Regions from separate parts of the Homo sapiens genome. Here regions 1 and 3 are each linked to region 2. Evidence: fine-mapped expression QTL. A gene starts in region 2. Each other region holds a variant in brackets. All regions are shown on one strand. Distances are from middle to middle. Region 1 overlaps ADAM28 (ADAM metallopeptidase domain 28). Region 2 holds the start of ADAM28 (ADAM metallopeptidase domain 28). Region 3 overlaps ADAM28 (ADAM metallopeptidase domain 28).

Region 1 (8,291 bases), 56 kb after region 2:
TTATGCAAAATATCTCCACTGTGTGATCTCCATATTATATTCCATATTGGGTCATTTTTCTTGTTAATTCTGGGGAAGTTTTTCAAGATTATTCTCTGTATCATAATATACATTTTTTAGCAATGTTAATTCTCTTATTACTTATAATGACATTTAAAATTATTCAGTGGCATTTTTATGTGTCTTTGAAATATTTTTTTATCCCAGTTGGTTGTTTTCTCCTGTTTCACATCTGTCTAGCTTTTTTACAGTCTATATTTTAATTGCATTGAGAGTACCCTAAATTTGATTCTTTATACTCCTTTTCTGAGAGTATACATTTTATGTATACTTCTACTTCTATGTGTTATTTTATACCTAATCTTTTGATTCAACCGATGCTTTTTCTTTAGTTATCATCCAATAAGGTTGAATTAATTCTGATAAGCACTGTTAAAAGTATTTCTCAAAATTTTTAACTTGGAGGACTAGCGATACAACTTTACGGTATATTACATGAAATTTGTATTTTAGCAGGATAAGGAGGTAGCTGGAGAAGTTCAAAATACATACAGTGGAAGCTTTTCTCAACTTATTCTGTTTGTTGAAACCACTACATCAGAATTCAACTTTATCCCCCAAGCCTTGTTTTTTTTAGGGCATTGTGTTAGTGGGTTCAGTGCCCTTTCAGTGCTATTTCTTATCTAACCATCAAGGAAAGCCTCAGACAGACTGAGGAACATTTCCTAGTTCAGAAGTGTCCTTGCACCAAGAGGACAGACCCTAGAGGATGACAATTTTTACTATAGCTATGGTCCTAAATCTAAACTTGAATGGGAAAAAATTACATTTTTATTTTCATTAAATTCTAAAGTTAGTTTAGAATTTTCTACAATTATGGGAATGTATGGCTTATAAACCATAATAGTATTAGCAATATTCCATGACTTTGTCACCAATAGAAATTACAAAGACTTTAATATCTCATTGCAGTTGTTGAATGTATCTCCAAATACCCCATGAGTATCATTTGTTTGAAATTTTGGTAATTACTGACCTACTGTTAGAACTGATTATTTCAGAGGTTAATAAACACATATTTTACTATATCATAAATTGTTTTATAATATTTTCACAACTGTATCCCAACATCAATAGCTTCCTTTAAATCTTATGCCTTTTATGAATGAATTTAGAAACACTCAGAAAAGGGGTTTATAGGCTTTATCAGATTGCCAAAATGATTTGCAGCATGACAAAGTTTAAGAGCACTGCCCTACGACATGGCCATACACAGCCATTGGCTTTCAAGATTATTGTTAACACCATCTTTTTGTGTGTAACATAATAGAGCAGACATGTAAATATAAAGGCAAACCTGATGATTACAAAATGAACGCTCATGTAATATAATAAGGGCCAAGAAATAGACCCAGACATCTGCTTTCCTGCCTCTTTTCAGTCTGATCTCCCCTCTTTCTCTAAGGGTTGACCATTAATCTTTCTTTTGTCATAATCATTTTGTTAGTTTTCTTTGTAGTTTTGCTTCCTAAATACACATCCTTAAACAGCAGCTTTTGGTTATATAATTCCATGTGTATAAAGTTTTTAAACACAGGAAACACAGCTTCCCTCACTATCAACACTGTCACCAGAGACATACATTTGTTACATCCATGAACATACCCGGACACATCATTATCACCAAGAGTCTTTAAAGTTTGTATGTATGAAATTTTTCTATGCTCATTTTCTTCTTTTTCTCTACCTTATGCTTTCAAGATCATCCATTCTAGTGATTGGATTAAGGTCCACTAGTTCTCTTTCAAGTTTCTAAGAATTCTGTCAAATACTTCCTTATTTATTAAAATGTTTTCCCCTTTACTCTATTAGTACTGTCAAATAAGTCAATTGGTTTGTGAACATTTATCTAACTTTGCAACCTTTGAATAAACCTAAGTTAGAAATAATATCTTTTTTATATAGTGAAGGATGTTTACTCTTATTTTATACTCTTGGGTGATATTGGACTGTGATTTTTTCATATTGAAAAAATTGCTGAATTTTGGTATCAAGGTTATGCTAGTCGCATAAAGTGTATTGGAGAGTATTCATTTATATTCTCCGGAAGAATTTGTATTTTTTGGCTATTTTATATTCATGGGTGATATTGGACTGTGATTTTTTCATATACGTGTTCTGTAGTATTCTCCAGATATTTTGTTTATCAAGTTTATTAATTGTCTGATATATAAATTAAGCCTAACATTGTTTATTTGTTCTACCAATTACTGTGCTGGGAGTGTTAAAATACCCCCCACTGTAATTGTGAATTTGATTACTACTTCTGGCTCTATCAATACTTTTATACTTTGAGAGCGTATTATTATATACATACAAGTTTAGAGTGTTGCTTCTTCCAAATTAATGAACAGTGTATCATGATGAAATGGTGCTGTGTCTATCTAGTACACTTCTTACCTTTGAGAATATACACTTCCTGGAGACCATATAGCTGTAACGTATTTGTTTTGGTCTGTATTTGCCCTGAAATAACATTTTTCCATATTTTCATTTTTATCCTTTCTGAATCACGTTTTAAGTCTTTTTTTCTTTTATTAAAGAAAGCATGCACATATAGTTTTTAGTAGTACTCACATCTTTGGTTTTTGTTTGTTTCTTTAACTGAGGAACTTAGTCCGTTTAAATTAAATGTAATTACTGATGTACTTGGGTATAAATCCACAATTATATAGTTTCTATTTGTCTTTCCTGTTTATGTTCCCTTTTCTCTCCTTTCTTACTTTCTTATAGACTTATTGATTTTATTATTTTATTAACTTGGATGTTATGCATTTCTTTTATATTTTAATGATTACCCTAAAACTTCCCAATTCATTTGCTTTTTTAAAAAAATAAACTTAACTTACTTTCTTTTGTAGAGCAGTTTTGGGTTCACAGCGAAATTGAAGAGAAAGAACAGACAGTTGACATATACCCAGCAACTCCCACTCCTGAACAGCTTCCCTCACCATCAACATCCCCCATTCTCGTGGAGTATTCGTTGATGGTAACAAATACTCCATAAACCTACATTAACACATCATTATCACCCCAAGCCCACAGTTTACATTAGGGTTTGCTGTTGGTTCATTTGCCTTTCATTTCTTTCTGCATTTCTGAACTTTTATCTAGGATTATTTTCTGTCTCTCCAGGTCCTTGCCCACTCACTAATCTCTACAAAGTAATTTTATCTAACATTTAAGTACTTTTATACTTTTAGGATGCTTTTGTTTGCTTGTTTGCAAAAAATTTAAAGATTAAAAGATTATTTTTAATGGGCAGGTTGATCTCAATTTCCTAGTCCACCATTACCAGAAACAAGAAGAGGCTGCACTTACTCTTCAGTGATTTCTATCTTCACCTGCAAACCTTCCGTTGTTATACTTCCATCTGTCCTGTGCCCCAATTTTAGCTCCAGACCATGTCTTTTCAAGTTTGGTGTGTTTGTGAAGTACTGCCAAATTCCCATTTATTTCTCTGATAATATGTCATTCTTCTGAAAATAGTTACAGTTCTGATATTAGTGCAAGTAAGTGTATGTTTTTCATTCTGAATGTATCTACACTATAACAGAATGCTTCACTGTTTTATTTTCCTTTGACTTTTTGGATTGGAATCTTATGGAGGGTGGCGAGTAGCGAATATTTGAACTAAAGTCATTGTCTTACCTAGAATTCTGCTTCTGATGTGTCTACCTCTATCTGCATGTGTGTGTGTGCTCACACTTGTGAACTTTTCTTGCATTTATACAAATATTAATCATGCTATTGGTTTGCTGATTTCTGTAATAAGAGAACGGTAACTTTTGGCATTGCTTTTCAATCTTTTCCTTCCTGGTCTCTTGTGGTTTCAGATTATTGTAAGAGAAATGAACAGTTAAGAGCAAAAGAGTGAAGTTATATTCATTATTTAAATTTGTCAGTACAAGAAAAAACACCATGGAGGCCCAGGAATATTTGTTCAAACCATTTCCTCATTCTCAAGGTCACATAACTTCCTGTCTAATTCCAGTGTAGACCAACATCAGTGGAACACTCGATTATTTGTCTTCTTAGTCACACCTCAGCTTCTTATTCACTAATGACAGGAATGTATTTTCAAAGTTTTAGTTTCTTTTTCTCTGTTTTATTCCAAGACTGCTTTTCAAAAATGTTTCATTTCTTCTTTGCCATCTTCCTTACTGTATATTCTCTTCTAATCTCCCAGCTCATTTCCCAGTTGTTACAAACATTATCTAAGTATTCTCAATATTATGATTTTTAACTTATTTCATGTTAAATGTTTCCTATAGATTTCATGTGTATTTATTCTACCTAATATTAATATAATTATCCTGATCAAAATACTTTTTCATTTTACTGGCTATGGGAATTTATGTTCATTGGAGAAAAGGGTAGCTGGAATATGTGCTAAGTAAAGAAACAAGGACTAGTGTGTTGTGCAGATGTGTGTTTCTGCAGTCCTCAGCGGGCCCCTGTTCTCTGCTGCAGACTTCTCCATTGTGGTTGGGGT[G/C]CTGTTCCCAATGGCGGTCATTTTTGTGGTGGTTGCTATGGTAATCCGGCACCAGAGCTCCAGAGAAAAGCAGAAGAAAGATCAGAGGTGATCCTTTATCTTATCTTGCTGTAGGGACTCTTTGACCCCTATTTTACTTTACTTTAAATTCAATGTATAACCTATCCTTTCAAATTGAATTGGTTTACTTCTAATATTCAGAAATACATGCAGATGGTCTTTTTGGACGAGAAACTGGGTTTCCCTTTAACTGAGAAATCCTTCACATCTAGAAATGTTTTTTGTTTTTCCTTCTGTTAGTCACCGTAGTTATAATAATAAGAGTGATATTAACTCTCATTATGACAGATTTTTTGAATTTGTTGTAAGAATATAATATCTAACATTATTTGATCAATATACGATGAGCACTGTGCTAAGCACCGCCCCACCCACTTTTTTTTGAGACAAGAGTCTCCCTCTGTGGCCCAGGCTGGAGTGCGATGCTGCGATCTCGGCTCACTGCAACCTCCACACCTCCCAGTTTCAAGTACTTCTCCTACCTCAGCCCCGAGTATCTGGGATTACATGCACATACCACCACACCGGGTTATTTTTGTATTTTTAGTAGAGATGGGGTTTCACCATGTTGGCCAACCTGGTCTCAAACTCCTGACCTCAAATGATCCACCCACTTTGGCTTCCCTAAGTGCCGGGATTACAGGTGTGAGTCTCCACACCCGGCCGTGTGCTAAGCCCTTTTATATCTATTATCTTATTTACACTTCACAAGAACTTCATAAAGTGGTCATGAGTTTCATTTTACAGATGAGAAATGTTTTATGCTAACCCTTACACAATTTTGCAAGGTTAGGAACTTCACATTTTGATGGATATAGAAACAAGCTCAGAGAGATTATTAGCAAACATGCTTTCAGTCTTGCAGAGTAAGTGGTGGAGGCTGGGTTTGTCTCACGAACGTGATTCTGGCACAACGGTGTTTTTTTTTTTTTTTTTTTTTTTTTTAGCACTTTTAAAGAAAGACTTATTTACTCATGATGAGTTTTTTAATATTGAGTAAGACATTAATAAAACAACATAATTTAGATAAAATTTGGATTCAACACTATCATTTTTAGAAGTCAGGGGTTTTTGGAGAAAAAAGAAAACTAGTAGTGATTATGAATTACAAGGCAATGAAAGAGGCTGACGGGGAAGTAAAAACTGACCCAGGGAGCAGATAAAAACCCAGGCAATAGGCAAGAAAGACACAATGGGAAAAAGAAGTTGGGAATCTTCTACGGAGTTTCCCTGTCATGCTGAAGGAGCTGCTAAGTCAATTGATATCATGTGTTTCTCTCTTACAGGCCACTATCTACCACTGGCACCAGGCCACACAAACAGAAGAGGAAACCCCAGATGGTAAAGGCTGTTCAACCCCAAGAGGTGAACTATATAGTCTGGGCTGTGATTACCATGGCCCCACTTTGCGTTTCTCTCACACTCTTATCCTGACTACCTATCTATCATTTCTACCCAGCAGCGTTTTGCAGTAACACATTCAGAAATGTCTCCTTTGCCTTTTGTTAAAGGCAAAAGAGTCCCTAAAATGCCGAGGCTACTTTGCCGGGGTTCATGAAATGCAAACAGAATAAAGAGAACAAAGAATGCACATACCGGATGTCTGTCTGTCTCTCTCTTTGTCTCTGCTTCATTCTCTCTCCCTCTCTCACACACACACACTCCCTCTAGCTTATTTCTTTGCAAATTGACAAAATAGATACAAAAATATGTATGTCTGTATGATAATACATGTAATATTTATAACCCAAATGTCCTACTCATGTCCTGTAAATTTAAAGATTTTAGCTGAAGTTGGTTAATAACATTGGTAATCATTTATAACATTGGTAATCATTTTTTGATGAAAACTTTTCATTACAGCTCTGGGAAATACTTCTATGGAATACGCCAGCAGGACCACTGTGATTTTCTATCTGGTCTCTTGGTGTCAGCTTAGTTCCAAGCTTCCATGCCTTGAAAAGTGCTTACTTAAAAATTACTTAAAAACTGTGCTTATGAAACTAATGGTTCATTTTGAAATATTCGTTCTTCTTTTCAGATGAGTCAGATGAAGCCCCATGTGTATGATCTGCCAGTAGAAGGCAATGAGCCCCCAGCCTCTTTTGTGAGTTAGCAACTTCTCTTAAATACCACCCTAGTTCAATCTCCAGGAAATATCGGTGAAAGTCATAGCCCACAACACTTCATTATTTCTTCAGGACAATATTGAAATCTATGTGAATATTAATATAAAATACAAATTCTTCTGCAAAATATTTTGAAAATATAAAAAAATGAACATGTATGTCACTCCATGCCAACTTGTGACAAGAAGAGGACTAATCTGCTTAATAGAGTACCACTGTTTTCATCAGCTCAGGCTGCTGTAACTAAATTAACATAGATTGAGTGGCTTAAACAACAGATATTTACTTCTCACATTCTGGAGACTGGGAAGTCCAAGTTCAAGGAGCTGGCAGATCCAGTGTCTGGTGAAGCGGCCTTCTGGCTTGTAGACAGCTGCCTTTTTATTGTATCCTCACATAGCAGAGGGAGAGCATCTCTCTTGTGCTTCTTCTTATAATGGCATTAATCCTATCATGAGAGCTGCACCCTCACGACCTCATTATTTCCAAAAGGCCCCACCTCCAAATACCATCATTCTGGGGATTAGGGTTTCAACATATGAAATTGTGGGGTGACACAAACATACAGTTTATAGCAATCATCTTTATCAGATACCTATTGACATTGGACTTAGGTCTCAACTGTGTATGTACAACTAAATGAAAGCAATCAAACTCATATTTTACAATATTCTCATGGGTGGGGTCATGGCTTCTCCATTTCTGAAAATGATTTAAGTCTTTTCTTTATGCACGCCTATTTTCAGGACCCTATCTTTGAATGTAAATGTTTTATCCTTTTACTAGCTAATTACAAAGCCAGATTTTCCACCACCGCCAATTCCTGCACCTATATCATCTTCTTTGCTTGTAAGTATCAGATAGTCATTGGTGAATTTTTAATCTCTCACCTGCTCATTGCAAATACTGTCTCCACATCCATCGGTTATCAGGATGTGTACTTTTGAGGTTAACTTGAAATATCACAGCACATTTGTCCCAGGGATATCTAAAACTTCCTGTCTATAAATTAGTATGGATATTGATGTTTTATTATAAAAAATAGTATTGCTGTTATGCAATTATTGAGAAACGATAAATAGCTCTGCTCTGTGAGGTCTCAAAGATTCATTTCTAGATGTTTATTTAAGGAGATAAAATTTTATTAGGTGATATTTTACTTTATGTATATTAGTCATAGTTTTCTGTAGGAGGTAGGGTATGAAAAATGGGCCATATATAAGCAAACCTGGAATAAGAGTCAGGTGCTCATGAAGTAAGAATTACAGTACATTCACTCATTAAATGGCTCCTGAGCATTTTTCTTGTGCCTGGTATTCTGCTGTGGGTAAATGAGAAAGACCTACATTTGAGATTTTTTTCTTTCAAGAAATTTCACATTTTTAGTGAGAAAAAACAAGTCATATAAAAATGGAGCACTTAATTCTTCAACTGTTATTTGTAGTATCGCCCAAGACGAGTGACACTGACAGGAAAAATATGGTGAGGAGAAAGTCAACGGGCTTGGAGTGGTTAAAGTAGGACGAATATTCATTGGTTGAGTAGTT
Region 2 (8,323 bases):
GATGTCAATGATAATGCTGTATTTATCACAAAGAAACAAAAGGGAAAATTAAACTGACTGCCCAAATTCAACTTTTATGCTTACTTGATACAACTTTGAGGAAATAACCAGGGAAGCAGAAAATAAAATTCATTTAGAGATTGGTATAAATTCTTTGACAGTAAAGGGAATTATAACTCTGGGCTATGAAGAATGATGAAAAATTATGAGAATGATAACTGGAACAAACTGATCAAAGGCATGTCACGACTACAAGAGAATTGAAAAGAGCCGAAGAACAAGTGCCAATTTAAAATTCCACATGGATCAGCATGCAGACTGTCATCATTCACCATTTCCAGGGCACTCCCCTCCTCAAGAAGCAAGCAGGAAGGTTATACTTCTCATTCGATCCCATCAGTGGTGACCATTCACCACAGCGTCAAAGTCAAGCACAAATACTTAGCAGGATATCTTCCCATTCTCTCAGGCATTCTTTGCTCCAACAATTCCAAACACTACCAGCCATAAACTAATGTGCTATAATATATTGTCCTTATTTATTCTCATAATTCTTTTTTTCCAACTTTTATTTTAGATTCAAGGAGGTACATATCCATCTGTTACATGGATATATTCCGTGATGCTGAGGTTTAGGGTACAAATAATCCTGCCACCCGGGTACTCAGCATAGTATCCAATAGCTAGGTTTTCAGCCTTTTCCCCTCTTCCCTCCCTTCTCCAGCAGTACCCAGTGTCTATTGTTGTCATCTTTATGTCCATGGGTACACAGCGTTTAGCTCCCATGTATAATTGAGAACATGCAGTATTTATAGATTTTGGATATTAGACTTTTGTCAGCTGTGCAGTTTGCTTATATTTTCGCCCGTTATGTAGGTTGTTGGTTTGCTCTGCTGATAGTTTCTTTTTGCTGTACAGAAGCTCTTTAATTTAATTAGGTCCCACTTGTCCATTTTTGTTTTCATTGCAATTGCTTTTGAGGACTTAAGTCATAAATTGTTTCCAGGGCCAATGTCCAGAATGTCATTTCCTAGGTTTTCCATAGTTTGAGGTCTGACATTTAAATCTTTAATCCATCTTGAGTTAATTTTTGTATATGGTGTAAGGTACCGGTTTTCTGTTTCTGCATTAATTCACTTAGGTTAATGGCCTCTAGGTGATCCATGTGCTGCAAAGAACACAATTTAATTCTTTTTTATAGCTGCATAGTATTCCAAGGTATATATGTACCACATTGTATTTATCCATTCCACCACTGATGGGCACCTAGCTTGATTCCATGTCATTGCTCTTGTGGATAGTACTGTGATGAACATAAGCATGTGTCTTCTCGGTAGAATAATTTATTTTCTTTTGGCTATATATCCAGTAAACGGATTGTTCGGTCAAATGACAGTTCTGTTTTAATTTCTTTGAGAAATCTCCAAACTGCTTTCCAGAGTGGCTGAACTAATTTACATTCCTACCAACATTGTGTGTTTCCTTTTCTCTGTGGCCTCACCAGCATTTGTTATTTTTTGACTTTTTAGTAATAGCCATTTTGGCTGGTGTGAGTTGGTACCTCATTGTTTTGATTTGCATTTCTCTGATAATTAGTTATGTTGGGCAATTTTTTCACATGTTTTTTTAACTGCTTGTATTTCTTCTTTTGAGAAGTGTCTGTTCATTTCTTTTGACCCTTTTTTTTTTTTTTTTTCTTTTTTTTTGAGACGGAGTCTTGCTCTGTCACCCAGGCTGGAGTGCAGTGGCGCAGTCTTGGTTCACTGCAACCTCCTCCTCCGGGTTCAAGTGATTCTCCTGCCTCAGCCTCCCAAGTAGCTGGGACTACAGGTGCCTACCACACGTGGCTAATTTTTGTATTTTTAATAGAGATGGGGTTTCACTATGTTGGCTAGACTAGTCTCGAACTCTTGACTTCAGGTGATCTGCCCACCTTGGCCTCCCAGAGTGCTAGGATTACAGGCATGAGCCACTGCACCCACCCTTTTGCCCATTTTTAAATGAGGTTACTTATCTCATGCTTGTTCAATTGTTTAAGTTCTTTATAGATTCTGGATATTAGACTTTTGTCAGCTGTGTAGTTTGCTCATATTTTCACCCGTTATGTAGGTTGTTGGTTTGCTCTGCTGATAGTTTCTTTTTGCTCTACAGAAGCTCTTTAATTTAATTAGGTCCCACTCATCCATTTTTGTTTTCATTGCAATTGCTTTTGAGGACTTAAGTTATAAATTGTTTCCTAGGGCCAATGTCCAGAATGTCATTTTCTAGGTTTTCCATAATTTGAGGTCTTACATTTAAATCTTTAATCCATCTTGAGTTAATTTTTGTATATGGTGTAAGGTAGGGGTCCAGTTTTATTCTTCTGCATATGGCTAGCCAGCTATCCCAGCACCATTTATGAAATAGGGAGTCCTTTTCCCAGGACTCCTGCCACCAGGATGCACTCCCTGCCCTGTTTGGTGTAGACCTCTGACTTCTATTGATAAATCTATTGTAACACTAAACACCTTGTGATATTGTGATCATTTATAGGTGGTACTCACTCTGTGCAATTTTATGGTAATTGAACTTATCTTTGTCAGATTGTGAACATCTCAATGAAAGTGATTGTGTTTTTTGTTTGTTTGTTTGTTTGAGACACTGTCTCGCTCTGTTGCCCAGGCTGGAGTGTGTTGTTGCAATCTCAGCTCGCTGCAGCCTCTGCCTCCTGGGTTCAAGCAATCAAGCAGTTCTCCTACCTCAGCCTCCTGAGTAACTGGGATTACAGGTGACCACCACCACACCCAGCTAATTTTTTTTTTTTAGTAGAGATGGGGTTTCACCATGTTGGGCAGGCTGGTCTCAAATTCTGATCTCAGGTAGTCTGTCTGCCTCAGCCTCCCAAAGTGCTGGGATTACAGACATGAGCCACCACTCCCGGCCATGATTGTGTTTTTTCAACTGCAATCTCAGTGTCTGACACATAATAGCTGTAAGTAAAATTACGTTGAATTAATGGAGAAAAAATATGTAATAATTAAAAGTTGAAGTATCCTTTCTGTTCCCTGGAAAAGACAAAGCAATGGAACTTGGGTTGAAAAGGCAAGAAATCTGTGAATCGCAATCCTGATGGTTAAAATGCTCAGTAACTAGACTCAAAAATTCCTTTGTGGTTTTAGTTGATGACTGTATAATCATTTGGAGACATCAATAATCACTGTAATCCCTCTAGTATGAGAATGTGTTTCAGAATCTGTAAAATGATGCATGATTTTAGTGGACTAGGACTAGGTTTTGTGGTAATAACTGGTCCTCAGCGTAATTTCTATTCCTTAGGAATTTCATAATTATTTCTATTCTCCCAGAATCTTTTCAATAGAAATGATACTGGGAGTACAAGTCAGCTAAGCCAAGGGAAAGCATTAGAGTATATGACTAAGAGCCCAGACAACACATAGTTCAGATTCCACTTCTACCACTTACTGGATAGGTGACTTTATCTGCTTAATCTTCTTAATCTATACAATGAGGGGACAACTGATTCTTAATCTTTTGAATTTTGCCTTTAAAACCCCAAATTTTCACCTGCAAAATGATTGTAAATGCATAATACATGAGTATCATAAAGACTAATAAAATAACAAGTACAGTAGATTTAGGAGAGTACCTGTATTAGTCCATTTTCATACTATCACGAAGAAATATCTGAGACTGGGTAAATTAAAAAGAGGTTTCATGGCCTCACAGTTTCACATGGCTGGGGAGGCCTCACTCTCATGGTAGAAGGTGAAGGAGGAGCAAAGACACATCTTACATGGAGGCAGGCAAAGAGAGCCTGAGCAGGGGAACTGCCCTTTATAAAATCATTAGATCTTATGAGACTTATTCACTATAATGAGAACAGCATGGGAAAAGCCCGCCCCTTGATTCAATTATCTCCCACTGGGTCCCTCCCACAACACATGGGGATTATGGGAGCTACAATTCAAGATGAGATTCAGGTAGGGACACAACCAAACCCTATCAGTACCTAAAACTTAATAAGCAGCTCAGTTGATATTAGTTATTTTATTGGTTATAAGTATGATTTTTAGACATGCCCAGTTTAGCCTTACTACCACCAGTGACAGATCCTAAAATTGTATCCTTTGGGTCTTGAATCCTTCTTCCACACTCCTCATTGCCAGTTATGACACAAATACCCCCAAGGATCTAAAAATTATTGTGCTTATATTGTCAGACATTCTTATTTCAGGATAGTTCAAACTTCCTGAGAGTACACTTGTGTGAGGAATAGAACATAAAATAATGGAAAAGAGAATGCTATATAGTAATTAGGTTGAATTAGAAATTGCTTTACATAACCACATTATGTATGTGGGGGAAAAATAACATTCTTAATAACTTTTTTCCTACAACTGTATATATATAAAAATATATTTAAACATATATTTATATATCATATCCGTAATGTAAATAAATGTCTAGCATGTTTTTCAAGACTCATTAATGCAGTTGCCTCTTTCCTTGTAGCTTATCTGGCTATAGTAATATGTTGGAAATGTACTACTTTGGAGTGGGGAGTATGGCAAAGGAGAGCAAAACAATAGTTCAGATCAAGTAATCTTAGAGCCAGGAGGCAGCCAGGACTTCCGCCTGCTGGGCCATTGTTGCAGGACCACAGCTTCGAGGTTGCGCAACACCTTTAGTAAACACTTCCTGAATCAGAGACAAGAATGAACCAGGGAGTTTCATTCTGTCTCACTGGAGAGGAGGCAGGGACAGACCCAGCAGCACCCACCTGAGCGAGAAGAGCAGACACCGTGCTCCTGGAATCACCCAGCATGTTGCAAGGTCTCCTGCCAGTCAGTCTCCTCCTCTCTGTTGCAGGTACATATTTAGCTCTTTTTCAGGTTCTATTGAATGCATTAGCGAACTTTTCATAGTCTCCTAATAGTTTTATTGTATAAACTATTTTGACTTTTTTCTTTTTCTTTTTTCTCAATCAATCTTACTAACCAGTTGGGCTGGTTTTAACCTGTTGTTTGGGGGCTGCGAGTGATACAAAGACAATGTTAAAAAGAGGCAACAAGAGGTCTTGAACCAATATGTATGCATCTCATCTGAGAATATACAGAAATAAAAGGGACAATTTCATACAGCACAATTTAAATCATGAATATGATTTTTGACTGAAAAAGTGGAATTCATCAAAACCCAGCTTGTCATTTAAAGAATGGTAAAGATGTGGCAGATTTATTTATTTATTACTGTGTACAAGGCTTAGGAAAATACCTACTATTATTATGGGAGCCAGTTTGGCTCTTTCTGTTTGAGTGTATATTTTTGTATTTACTCATTATTAGTAATAATACGTGTGACTAACTGGAAATAATTAATATTTTTTATTTATAAGGTACTGTGATATTACTTAACAAAATATCTCTGTTAAGCTTAAATTGATAATTTACTTCTATTTTGCTGATTATACCAAACATTTAAAAATTTGAAAGGAGAAAAATACTACTTCCTAACAGGAAATTATGTCTAGCAAGTCTCTCAATTTCTGGTAAATTCTCTAATTAGACTTTGGTTAAATTAGATTGGGTATTGTGATTCTTCAGCTTCTATTTCCAGAGCTTATTTAACTCAGCACATGAACTGCAGTGCCTCGAATTCCTCCCAGTAAACCTGTTCTTGGGTCTTAGAATGTTTGCTGGGACCTGGGGATGGGAACAGATTATCAACTAGAGGTATGGGCTTAGGGAGGGAAAAGTTTTCCTTGTCCATGCACCCTCTTAGTACTTTGTTGCTAAAAATGATTTTCCTGTGTCTCACCTGTTTCTGATTTGTTTTCAAGACTTATAAAAATTTCACTTAACCTAATATCTTTAAATATCGAATTATTTTCCTTTTGTTTCTGTGTATTTTTGCTTTATATAATATGTACCTATATCTGAACTGAACCTTTTCCCACTGTGCTGTGATCCTCTTCATCTCTAATGCCTTTTGCTTTGATACCTATTTTGTCTGATGTGAACGTGTTACACCAGCTTTCTTTTGGTAAAATAAGCCTGAAATATTAAAAATATATATAAAACTCATGCCAGGCATTTAACATTGACCTGAAATTCCTACTTTTTGAGGCAGACTTAATAGAAATGTTTTTTTCTCTCCGTTCTCCAAAAATGCTATCACCAAGAGCTTTTCCAGAACCCCCTCTAAGCTGAAATACAAGAACTGCTTGGGCACTAGCTTAGTTGAAGAGCGTAAAGATCAAGCTGGATCCATTAACAGAGTCACATGGCTAACACTGGGGCCCATGCACATTACAGTCCTTTTGTGCAACTGGGCACACTAATCAGTTCTGCTGCCCCGACGGTGCATGTATAACATGGCACCAAGAGATGCAACTTCCTCTGATGTCAACTCTAAAAGTGTGATGTCACCCCTCCTTTAACTTCTAGCTTCTATTTTTAAGGGTGTCTTTTTGCCACTGAACTATCCCTGTTATGATTCCCATTTGGGTTGCCTTTCTAGTCAGAATATAAGAAGTAAAGCAATTTTCATTTCCCAGTTCTTCCTGTTTGTTCTCTGCCCCCATCATCAAAGCAATACATATGTGCCCCTCTGACCATGACTTCTGCCCAGTCCCCAGATGGTTGAAATAAAAGAAAGAGATGTAAAATAAGGCTGGTTGTGTGCAGTGAACTTCACAATCCCGAGAAAAAATTGACTTATGGGATTTCATCCTAGGAAAAGGAAAAACAAATATTTAAAAGGATGTGACAGGTGTTTGCGGGGTGAAGATGTAAATGATTGCATCAACAAAGGAGAAAGGTGCTTACCTTATTACAGCAGAATACTCAGGGGGTACAGCACTTTTTGAAATTATTTTATTTCAAACTACCAGTTCTTCCTTGCCTTTATAAGGTAACTGGAAGACTGAAAAGAAAATATACAGTTTAATCTAAATAGTCAAAATAACAGACCTAATAGAAATGCAGTTTTTTCCCTTTTGTTTGTACTCACTTTTAATGCATGAAGTTTAAAACCACAAGATGGTTTGAGGAGATGCAGAGAATCCCAGGACATAAGTCAATATCCTTGTGTAAACCCTAATTCAGCGTTTAATATGATGTGTTCAGTTTGGAAAGAAGACATTTCTTTGAACAGTTTCAAACACATTTGAACGAAAATGAAAATGTCAATATTACATACTCATGTTCCCATTTCCAAAATGACCCCAAACACATGAACAAATAATGTAGCAATCCAGACTAATGTCTCTCATATTAACGTTGTTAATGAGCTTTGGCTTTTCTAAGACTCAAAACAGTCAAAAATAATTATCCCATCTAAACCAAAATAACAGTTTTCTTTTTCCTGATCTGGTTTTGCTAGTCAAGACTAATCCAGTGTGTGAGTTCTGTGGGAGAGAGAAGGCAAGTATTAAAATGAATTAGTAAAAACATATTGTGTTACACCTTGGATTTGTGTAATCCCTGGATGGCAGTTAGTTGTGTTTGTTCCTCAGGCTTCAAAAATAATTAACGTGATGTTATTCAGTGGGGAAGACGCTGCACCATTTCCATTAAACTTAAGGATGGATGAGCTAAACAATATTTAGGTCTGTTACATCCCTACAATGGCTGTGTAATTTGTTGTATTCCAGATCCCATTATTTCAGGGACTTCTAGGTTTCCAGAAAATAAGAGCCTTTAAGAGAAATTCCATTTAGTTTCTTTAGAGAATATATGGAGTGACAGGAGTTTGGAAGGAGCTGGAATTCCATTCACTTCAAACTGAAGAGATTGAGAGGTTGCCAATGATTTCTAAAAGAAATGTTGTGGGTTTTTTTTTGTTGTTGTTGTTGTTTGTTTTATTTTGCTTTGTTTTTGGTTTCCATTTGGAAGTGTTCGGCCACCAAAAAGTTGGAAATAAATTACATAACTTACATATTTTAAGCCCATATTTAAGAGCCAGTTTGCAATTTCTAATTTCATGAAACATTGGGATTCAGATACTAACTAGAAGCATAGAGGTCAGGGTGCATGTGAGAGAAAATTTGTGTTGGCTAGATGAGCCTGTTTTCCTTCTTACCATTTCTGAATGGTGCTGAGAAGGAAACTCACTTCATTTTCTGCTTTTATACAAAAAATCGGGAACGTAGCTATTATTTTATTCCACGAAGGCAGCTTGGACTACTATTTCCTGTTAGAATCATGTGTGTTCTAATATAGCATTTAAAAAGATTTATGTTGGCTGCAACATTGGTGAAATTTGGCTTCTTGAACTCTCTATCTTAACAAGACTAATTGCATTGATTAGCTACTGTAATGTA
Region 3 (8,288 bases), 67 kb after region 2:
GTAAAGTAGCTGTTTCCATAATCAGGGAACATGCTTTAGTTCATCATCACAGCTACAGTTTTTCTTGTATTTGTCTGCTTCACCCATTTCTATCAATCACTTACCTGGTCCCCACAGGCCTGTCGCTTCATGAGGAACTTTATGGTTCATTTACCCTTGCAGTATGAGGTTCTAGATAAGCCCACTCTGGCCTCAAAAGTGAAGCTCAGTCCTCAGGAAATCCAGAGTCCACTGATCAAATCACTGTCAAGGATACAGGCTTTTTCTCCATGTGGCATTTGCAGAAGAACAACTTTAAAAGTAGAGCTTTATCTGCCCTGTGAGGTTTCAGAAGACCCTCCCCTGACCCAGAAATAAATCCCTATTTCCTGGAAAGCCATTATGTACTCGTGACCAACTTGTGAACTTTTCTGTGTTGTTGTTGTTGTTTTTTAAATATCTGTCCCCAGTAATAGATTCACCTAATCCTTTTTTATACTGATGGAATGGAAATCTTAAATCTATGAATCCTCAACTAGCCATGTACCATAACCCAAGCAAAAACTAAACCATACACTCTCAAAAGCAGTGGCATGTGAACATGCCTGCAAGTTCCTAAATGATGTCACTAGGTCCCTGATGCAGATGCATCATACGTCCTATTTGAAGAGAAGAAATGCAGTACAATGACAGGAAAACCATTATTTTATCATAGAACTGCGAACCCAAGTCCTACAATGTTTCCCTTTCAGCTCAACTGCAGAATAGTTTAGAACAGACTTTTTGATTTCACAATACTGTTTCCACACTTACTTATATCCGTAACTTTCTAACTTTAAGGGAATTCCGCTTATTTGACATTTAACTACCTCAGATATGCCACCAAACCTGTTTTCATCATTAGTTATTTTTACCTTGTCTACTTTAAAACAGTGAAATTATTAGGTTAAATTATGTTTTTATCCAGTTACTCTAAGATACCTTAGTGTTTGTCTACTTATTACAACTCACCAAATTACTGGTTTTATATGGCCTTTGGGAAGGCTTTTAGCTTTTTATAAAATAATGAAGTATGCATGAAAAGAAAGCAAATTTTAGTTGGTTGCAGTCAGAGAATATGGAAAGGGTTATTATTATAATTAGGATTTTATTATTCACATTGGAAATCACTGCTATGTGTTAAGGAATTGAAGGTGGCCTCTGGCTAGCAGCCATTAAGAAAATGAGCCCCTGAGTTCAACGACCCTCAAATGAAGTGAAGTCTACCAATAACCACTGAATAAGCTTGGAATTTTAGATTCCTTCCCAGCTGAATCTTGACTTCAGCCTTGTGAGACACCCTGAAGTAGAGGATGCAGCTAAATTTTGTCCAGATTACACACCCACAGAAACTGTATGATAATTAATATGTGTTGTTTAAAGTTGTTATGGTTTGGAGATATTTGTTATGCAGCAATAGATAGCTGATACAAGGAAGTAGAGAACAAACATTTTCTATTAGTCTGTTTTCACATGGCTATAAAGAATACCACCTGAGACTGGGTAATTTATAAAGAAAGGAGGATTAATTGACTCAGATTTCCACATGGCCTAGGAGGCCTCAGGAAACTTACAATCATGATGAAAGAGGAAGCAGAAACATCTCATATGATGGAAGATGTGTATGAAGGAGGAACTGTCAAACACTTATAAAACCATCAGATCTCTTGAGAGCTTACTATCTCGACAAAAGCATGGGGGAAACCACCCCCATGATCCAATCACCTCCCACCTGGTCCCTCCCTCAACATGTGGAGATTATAGCAATTAAAAAAATGAGATTTGGGGGGATGGACACAGAGCCAAACCATATAATGTTTTAAATGCTCCAGATAGGTTTAGGTAAAATTAACTATATTTAATAGGCTTTCATCACTGCAAAACTTTTTTTCCTTTCTTTGTGTCTCTAGTCTCTTCCATTTGTTCTCCCTTCTTTACTAGCACCGAGGATTTGCTTGAAATCTCTGATAGCCAGTATTCTCATTTATCATATTCTTTCTCACTTTGTGTTTCCTTGGTAATTTTGGATAACTCCTTAAATTTATCTTCCAAATTACTGGTTTTTATATTCTGTACTGTCAGTCCTCCTGTTCACTAATTTCAAAATTTATAGTTGTTTCTCTTGTTTACTTATATAGTTGTTTCTCTTGTTTACTTAATAACATTCTCTTCTTTCCTATCAGTTTAATTTTATAAAGGCTAACCAATTAACTGTTTTTAACTTATATTTCCAGATATTTTAAAAATTAAAGCAAAATGTGTATAAACTTTATTACTGCTTCCCACAGTAAATATTTTTCAGAAGTACATGCTTTCTCAGCCACTTGACTAGTATGTTCCCCATCATTCAAAGACACCATTATTTCCTAAGTGTTATATTGCTATTTTTCAGTTGGTGCATCCAATATTATTATCAGCTTTAATATTGTTTCATCATATGTCATTGTTCAAAGAATCCATCTCTTGAGCGTAAGCTAAATAATTTGCATACACTAGCATCTGGATGTAATATGGAAAAATATGGAAATGGTTGGGGTGATAAGCAAGTCTTGCATATTCTTTTCTCCTCAATTTTTTTTCTCCAAAGTGGGCCAAGCCAAGAGTGGCACAGCTGTGTGGAGATACTGAGCTCCACCTTGTCAGGGAAGATCCCAACTCAGGAGAAAACACCTCTAACAAAATCTGTAGCCACGTTGGCACATCTGCCCTTGAATTCACTTTGTCTCTTTTGCTGCTTCCATAAAAAGGCTTTCCCTTGACAATGTTAGGCACTTTTTAGCAACTAGGCCTGGGTGGTCTGCTACAATGCCCAACACTTAATACAGTATCACTATTACTGTTAGTAGTATGCTAAGCGAATACTATTGTTATAAAAAAAATCCTAAGCATGAAAATTACGGTATACAATTTATTGTGAAGGCAACTTCTTGTGAACATTAAACGGTTTATCTCCTTCACCTCATATTAAAGTCCATACTCTTGGGATATATCTGACATCTCAATATTAAATGACTAAGATGACTAAGTCGTTTATGTTGCTCCCACCTCACACAAAGTTAAAACTATTTGTTACTTTAAATAGTTTGACAATGTTATTTTAAAATCTGGACAAATCACAAATATAAAATACTTATTTAATTTTCTTCTGTAAAAAGATGTATGCTTGGTCAGGCACAGTGGCTGATGCCTATAATCCCAGCACTTTGGGAGGCTGAGGTGGGTGGATCACGAGGGTCAGGAGTTCGAGACCAGCCTGGCCAAGTTGATGAAACCTCATCTCTACCAATAATACAAAAATTAGCCAGGCAGGATGGCGGGCACCTGTAATCCCAGCTCTCAGGAGGCTGAGGCAGGAGAATCACTTGAACCCAGGGCACAGAGGTTTCAGTGAGCCAAGATCGTACCACCGCACTCTAGCCTGGGTGACAGAGCAAGACTGACTCCACCCAAAAAAAAAAAAAAAAAGCAAAAAGAACAAAGCTGGAGGCATCACACTACCTGACTTCAAACAATACTACAAGGCTACAGTAACCAAAGCAGCATGGTACTGGTACCAAAACAGAGAGACAAACCAATGGAACAGAACAGAGGCCTCAGAAGTAACACCAGACATCTCCAACCATCTGATCTTTGACAAACCTGACAAAAACAAGCAATGTGTAAAGGATTCCCTATTTAATAAATGGTGTTGGGAAAACTGGCTAGCCATATGCAGAAAACTGAAACTGGACCCTTTCCTTACACCTTATACAAAAATTAACTCAAGATGGATCAAAGACTCAGACGTAAGACCTAAAACCATAACTCCAGAAGTAAACCTAGGCAATACCATTCAGGACATAGGCATGGGCAAAGACTTCA[T/C]GACTAAAACACCAAAAGCAATGGCAACAGACGCCAACATTGACAAATGGGATCTAATTAAACTAAAGAGCTTCTGCACAGCAAAAGAAACTATCAGAGTGAACAGGCAACCTACAAAATGGGAGACAATTTTTGCAATCTATCCATCTGACAAAGGGCTAATATCCAGAATCTACAAAGAACTTAAATTTACAAGAAAAAAAAAATCCCCCATCAAAAAGTAGGTGAAGGATATGAACAGACACTTTTCAAAAAAAGATATTTATGCAGCCAACAAACTATGAAAAAAAGCTCATCATCACTGGTCATTTGAGAAACGCAAATTAAAACCACGATGAGATACAATCTCATGCCAGTTAGAATGGTGATCCTTAAAAAGTCAGGAAAACAACAGATGCTGGAGAGGATGTGGAGAAACAGGAACACTTTTACACTGTTGGGAGTGTAAATTAGTTCAACCATTGTGAAAGACAATATGGCAATTCATTAAGGTTCTAGAACCAGAAATACCATTTGACCAAGCAATCCCATTACTGGGTTTATACCCAAAGGATTGTAAATCATTCTACTATAAAGACATATGCACACGTATGTTTATTGTGATACTGTTCACAAAGCAAAGACTTAGAACCAACCCAAGTGCCCATGAATGATACACTAGATAAAGAAAATTTGGCACATATACACCATGAAATACCACACAGCCATAAAAAAGGATGAGTTCACGTCCTATGCAGGGACATGAAAACCATCATTGTCAGCAAACTAACAGAGGAACAGAAAACCAAACACCACATGTTCTCACTTATAAGTGGGAGTTGAACAATGAGAACACACGGACCCAGGGAGAGGAACATCACATACCGGGGCCTGTTGCGGGGTGGGGGAGTAGGGGAGGGATAGCATTATGAGAAATACCTAATGTAGATGATGGGTGGGTGGGTGCAGCCAACCACCATGGCACATGTATACCTATAGTAACAAACCTTCACATTCTGCACATGTATCCCAGAACTGAAAGTATAATTTTTAAAAAATTTAAAAAACAATATATGCTTAATATAGAAAGGTTGAGAAACAAGAGAAAGTACTAAGACAAAAATTTTTCCTAATCTCACCAAGTATGATTTCAATCAACACTTGGAAATATGACCTTTTCCTCTCTTTTCTGTCTGGTATATAAGTTAAGTATTAATTCAATATTTATGCTATTTGTATTATGGCTTTTAATTTTACTTAGTAATATGACACAAATCTATAAGAATATTATGCAGCCATCAATACTATTTTATTAATGAATAATGTTTTACTTAATATCTGATTCAACAATGAAATCTTTTTTCAAAAATGTTTATGGCTAAAATAATGCAGTGATGAACAATGGTGTATATACCATCTAAAGGCAGTTCTCTGTATCACAGTTCGGGTTCCTGGGCAAGCAGAATCTGAGATGGATTTTAGCAGCCAGGAAGTTTATTATGGAGGGCTTTCAGGTCAGGTCCCCTATTTGTTTAATGGAATGGGAGAAAGCAGGATTAGGCTGGAGGAGTTGGGAATGATGCTGCCTCAAAGAAGGCTTTAGCTGGCCCAGCCAGCCCTGAACCTGGGCTATCCTTCAGAATGAAGCCAAGTTGAGGCAAAAGGGAAAAGCTTTTACTCCCTCATGTCAACTAGTCACAGGTACAAATTGCTCTCAAAAGAGCTGTGACCTTGGGCAAGATGACTTTATTTAGTGAAAGCATTTTCCAGGTACAAATTGCTCTCAAAAGAGCTGTGACCTTGGGCAAGATGACTTTATTTAGTGAAAGCATTTTCCAAGGCAAGTTGATGGCTGTCTGCAGGTAGCACAGCCAACAATTGGGGGATAAGTTCTTCTGTGCTTAATGGCGACCTGTGCAGCCCAAAACAAGGCCTATTTTTTCTTTGAGTCTGGGTTTCATTGCATTGCTCAGACTGGTCTCCAAGTCCTAGACTCAACAATCCTCTTGACTCAGCCTTCCAAGTCACTGGGATTACACATGTGATCCACAACACCCAACGTTTATTACTTCTTATTTCCTTTGGATAGTACTCTATATGTTGGCTAGCCCCCTAAAAGTTTTCCAACTTTTTTGCTACACTTTGCAAAAATTTTTCTCTAGTAGGAATATGTATGAATTTAAATTTCCATTAGCAATTTATGAAACTGTTTCCACATAGGCATTCTCATTCTTAATACCTGCCTATCTTAACACCTTTCCTTGCTTAGAGGATTCCCACATTGCACATCTTGGAGATATAGCTCCTTTGCTATTTGCAGTGGCAACTGGAAATATTCTGCATGTTGTTACCAGATTCTTTTTATTTTTTCCTGGAGACAGGGTCTTGCTCTCCTCTCTTGCACCAGGTTGGAGTGCAGTGGCATGATCTTGGCTCACTGTGATTTCAACCTCCCAGGCTCAAGCAATCCTCCTACCTCAGCCTCCAAAGTAGCTGGAACCATAGGCATGCACCACCACACTCTAATTTTTGTATTTATTGTAGAGAAGGGGTCTTGCCATGTTGCCCAGGCTGGTCTTGAACTCCTGGGTTCAAGTGATCTGCCTGCCTTGGATTTCCAAAGTACTGGGATTCCAGGCTTGAGCTACAGTGCCTGGCCAACCCTCTTTTGCACCTATGACATAGTTATGGCCAAGGATCTACCTTTCAGATGTACCCTCCCAGAACTTTGAATCAGAAGTATGTAATATAAAGCAGAAATTACAGAGAATTATCTTTGGTGATGCACACTGTTATAATAAGGTTGAGTTCCTCAGGAAGTCTTGAGACTAGTGCCAATTGCTGGTTCAAGGCTGGTCTAGTGCAAGGAGTATCAGCAGTGTCAGCTGAGTGACTGGCAAGGGTGAGACAGACATTCTGTATTATTCAGCTCCACGATACAGGCTGGAATTCCTCATTGCATAGCTACCAAGTTTGGTTCTCCAGTCCTCATGTCGAGTCCTTCAGCTACCTAAAATCCTTTGTTTTAACTCAAATATTATGTTTTATTGTGGTAAAATATATATGACATTGAATTTACCATTTTAACCAGTCTTAAGAATACAATTTGGTGACATAAGTACATTCATTGTGCTGTGCAACCACCACCACCATCTATTTCCAGGACCCATTCGTCATTCCAAACAGAAACTCTATATCCATTAAACAATAAATCCCCGTTATGTTTTCCCCTCAATCTCTGGTAACCTCTACTCCACTTTCTGTCTCTGAATTTGCCTATTCTAGGTAGCTCCTATCAATGGAATTATACAGTATTTTTCCATCTATGTGTCTGACTTATTTCACTTTGCACCATGTCTTCAAGTTTCATCCATATTGTAGCACGTATCAGCATTTCATTTATTTTTAAGGCTAAATAACCTAATCATCTTTTAATATATTTATTTTCTATTTGAGAGGGCTGGAGATAATTTCTGTTGCTCCATGTCATCATTCAAATTAACATTGTTTTTCTCCACTTTATACATTTTAATTTACAATTTTTTTTGATGGCAAACCTATTTTAAAATGGATAATGATACATACTTTATTCCTAGTATTTTAGAACCTCATTTAAATCAGTTATTGCTATTCTCTTCTTCATGAGAACCACATCCATTGTTTCTTTCTAAGCTTAGTTGACCAAGCACAGACAATGGCTCAATGTTGAAATCTTAGCTGTGCAATCCTGATGGGAACAACAATTTAAGGAAGTTCAGAAAATTATCTAAATGAAAAATGAAATGATGATGCTATGACTAGAGATAACGGTCCCCTCCTGATGTCCCAGTAGCTTTTGAGAAAGCAGGTATCAACTGCTGGACCGCAAAAGTTGCTCCATTTCTCATAGAGAAGACTCCAATGCACAGGCCAAGTGCTATGTCTCAGCAGATAACACTGTTCCCTTGTAAATCAACATGTGTTGCCAAATTGGCCTTGATCTCTCTAACTGCTGTGGAATAGCTCTGAGATTCGTGGGTCTCTTGAGACATGTTGTAAGTATAATTGAAATGGAGCCTGCAGGAGCCAGTTCCTGGCAAAACTCTCTCAGTTCTTTTGTGCCCATGGCAGGGCTGAGTAGATCCACTGGAAAGCTGCAGTCTCAGATAGGAAATAAGGGAACGAAAATGTAGCAGAAATATAAAGACAAGAGAATAAGAGAAAAGTCAGTTTTTGGTGCAGGATGGTAAGCCACACACAGAAAACAAAGTATAGATAGTCCTCCTGGCTCTGCCAAAAACTAGCTCTTTAGCCTTATGCAAATAATTTCAATTCTTTGATTTTACCAGTCTTAAGTATACAATCTGTACATTTACTCATCTATAAAATGAAATTAAAAATGTATGACTTGCCAATATTCAAACAGGATTTTTTTGTTCTTGTTGAGACAG

What was found. PIP is the estimated chance that this variant, and not a neighbour inherited with it, causes the effect.
Region 1: its variant is fine-mapped to the expression of ADAM28 in whole blood (TOPMed, PIP above 0.99).
Region 3: its variant is fine-mapped to the expression of ADAM28 in whole blood (TOPMed, PIP above 0.99).

The regions. Positions count from the first base shown.
Region 1 is chr8:24,345,331-24,353,621 of GRCh38, forward strand. ADAM28 (ADAM metallopeptidase domain 28) reads left to right here. Exons shown (of 23, transcript NM_014265.6): 19 at 4,534-4,642; 20 at 5,902-5,980; 21 at 6,657-6,722. The region is part of intron 3 of ADAM7-AS1 (ADAM7, ADAMDEC1 and ADAM28 antisense RNA 1); the gene reads right to left. Among named protein-coding and RNA genes, the nearest start is that of ADAMDEC1, 35 kb to the right of the region's middle. The variant G/C (reference allele first, on the strand shown) is at 4,556.
Region 2 is chr8:24,289,327-24,297,649 of GRCh38, forward strand. ADAM28 (ADAM metallopeptidase domain 28) reads left to right here and starts at 4,743. Exons shown (of 23, transcript NM_014265.6): 1 at 4,743-4,869. The coding sequence starts at 4,824. ADAM7-AS1 (ADAM7, ADAMDEC1 and ADAM28 antisense RNA 1) reads right to left here. Exons shown (of 6, transcript NR_125808.1): 5 at 6,828-6,924; 6 at 6,488-6,731.
Region 3 is chr8:24,355,859-24,364,146 of GRCh38, forward strand. ADAM28 (ADAM metallopeptidase domain 28) reads left to right here. Exons shown (of 23, transcript NM_014265.6): 23 at 1-3,156. The region is part of intron 3 of ADAM7-AS1 (ADAM7, ADAMDEC1 and ADAM28 antisense RNA 1); the gene reads right to left. Among named protein-coding and RNA genes, the nearest start is that of ADAMDEC1, 24 kb to the right of the region's middle. The variant T/C (reference allele first, on the strand shown) is at 3,880.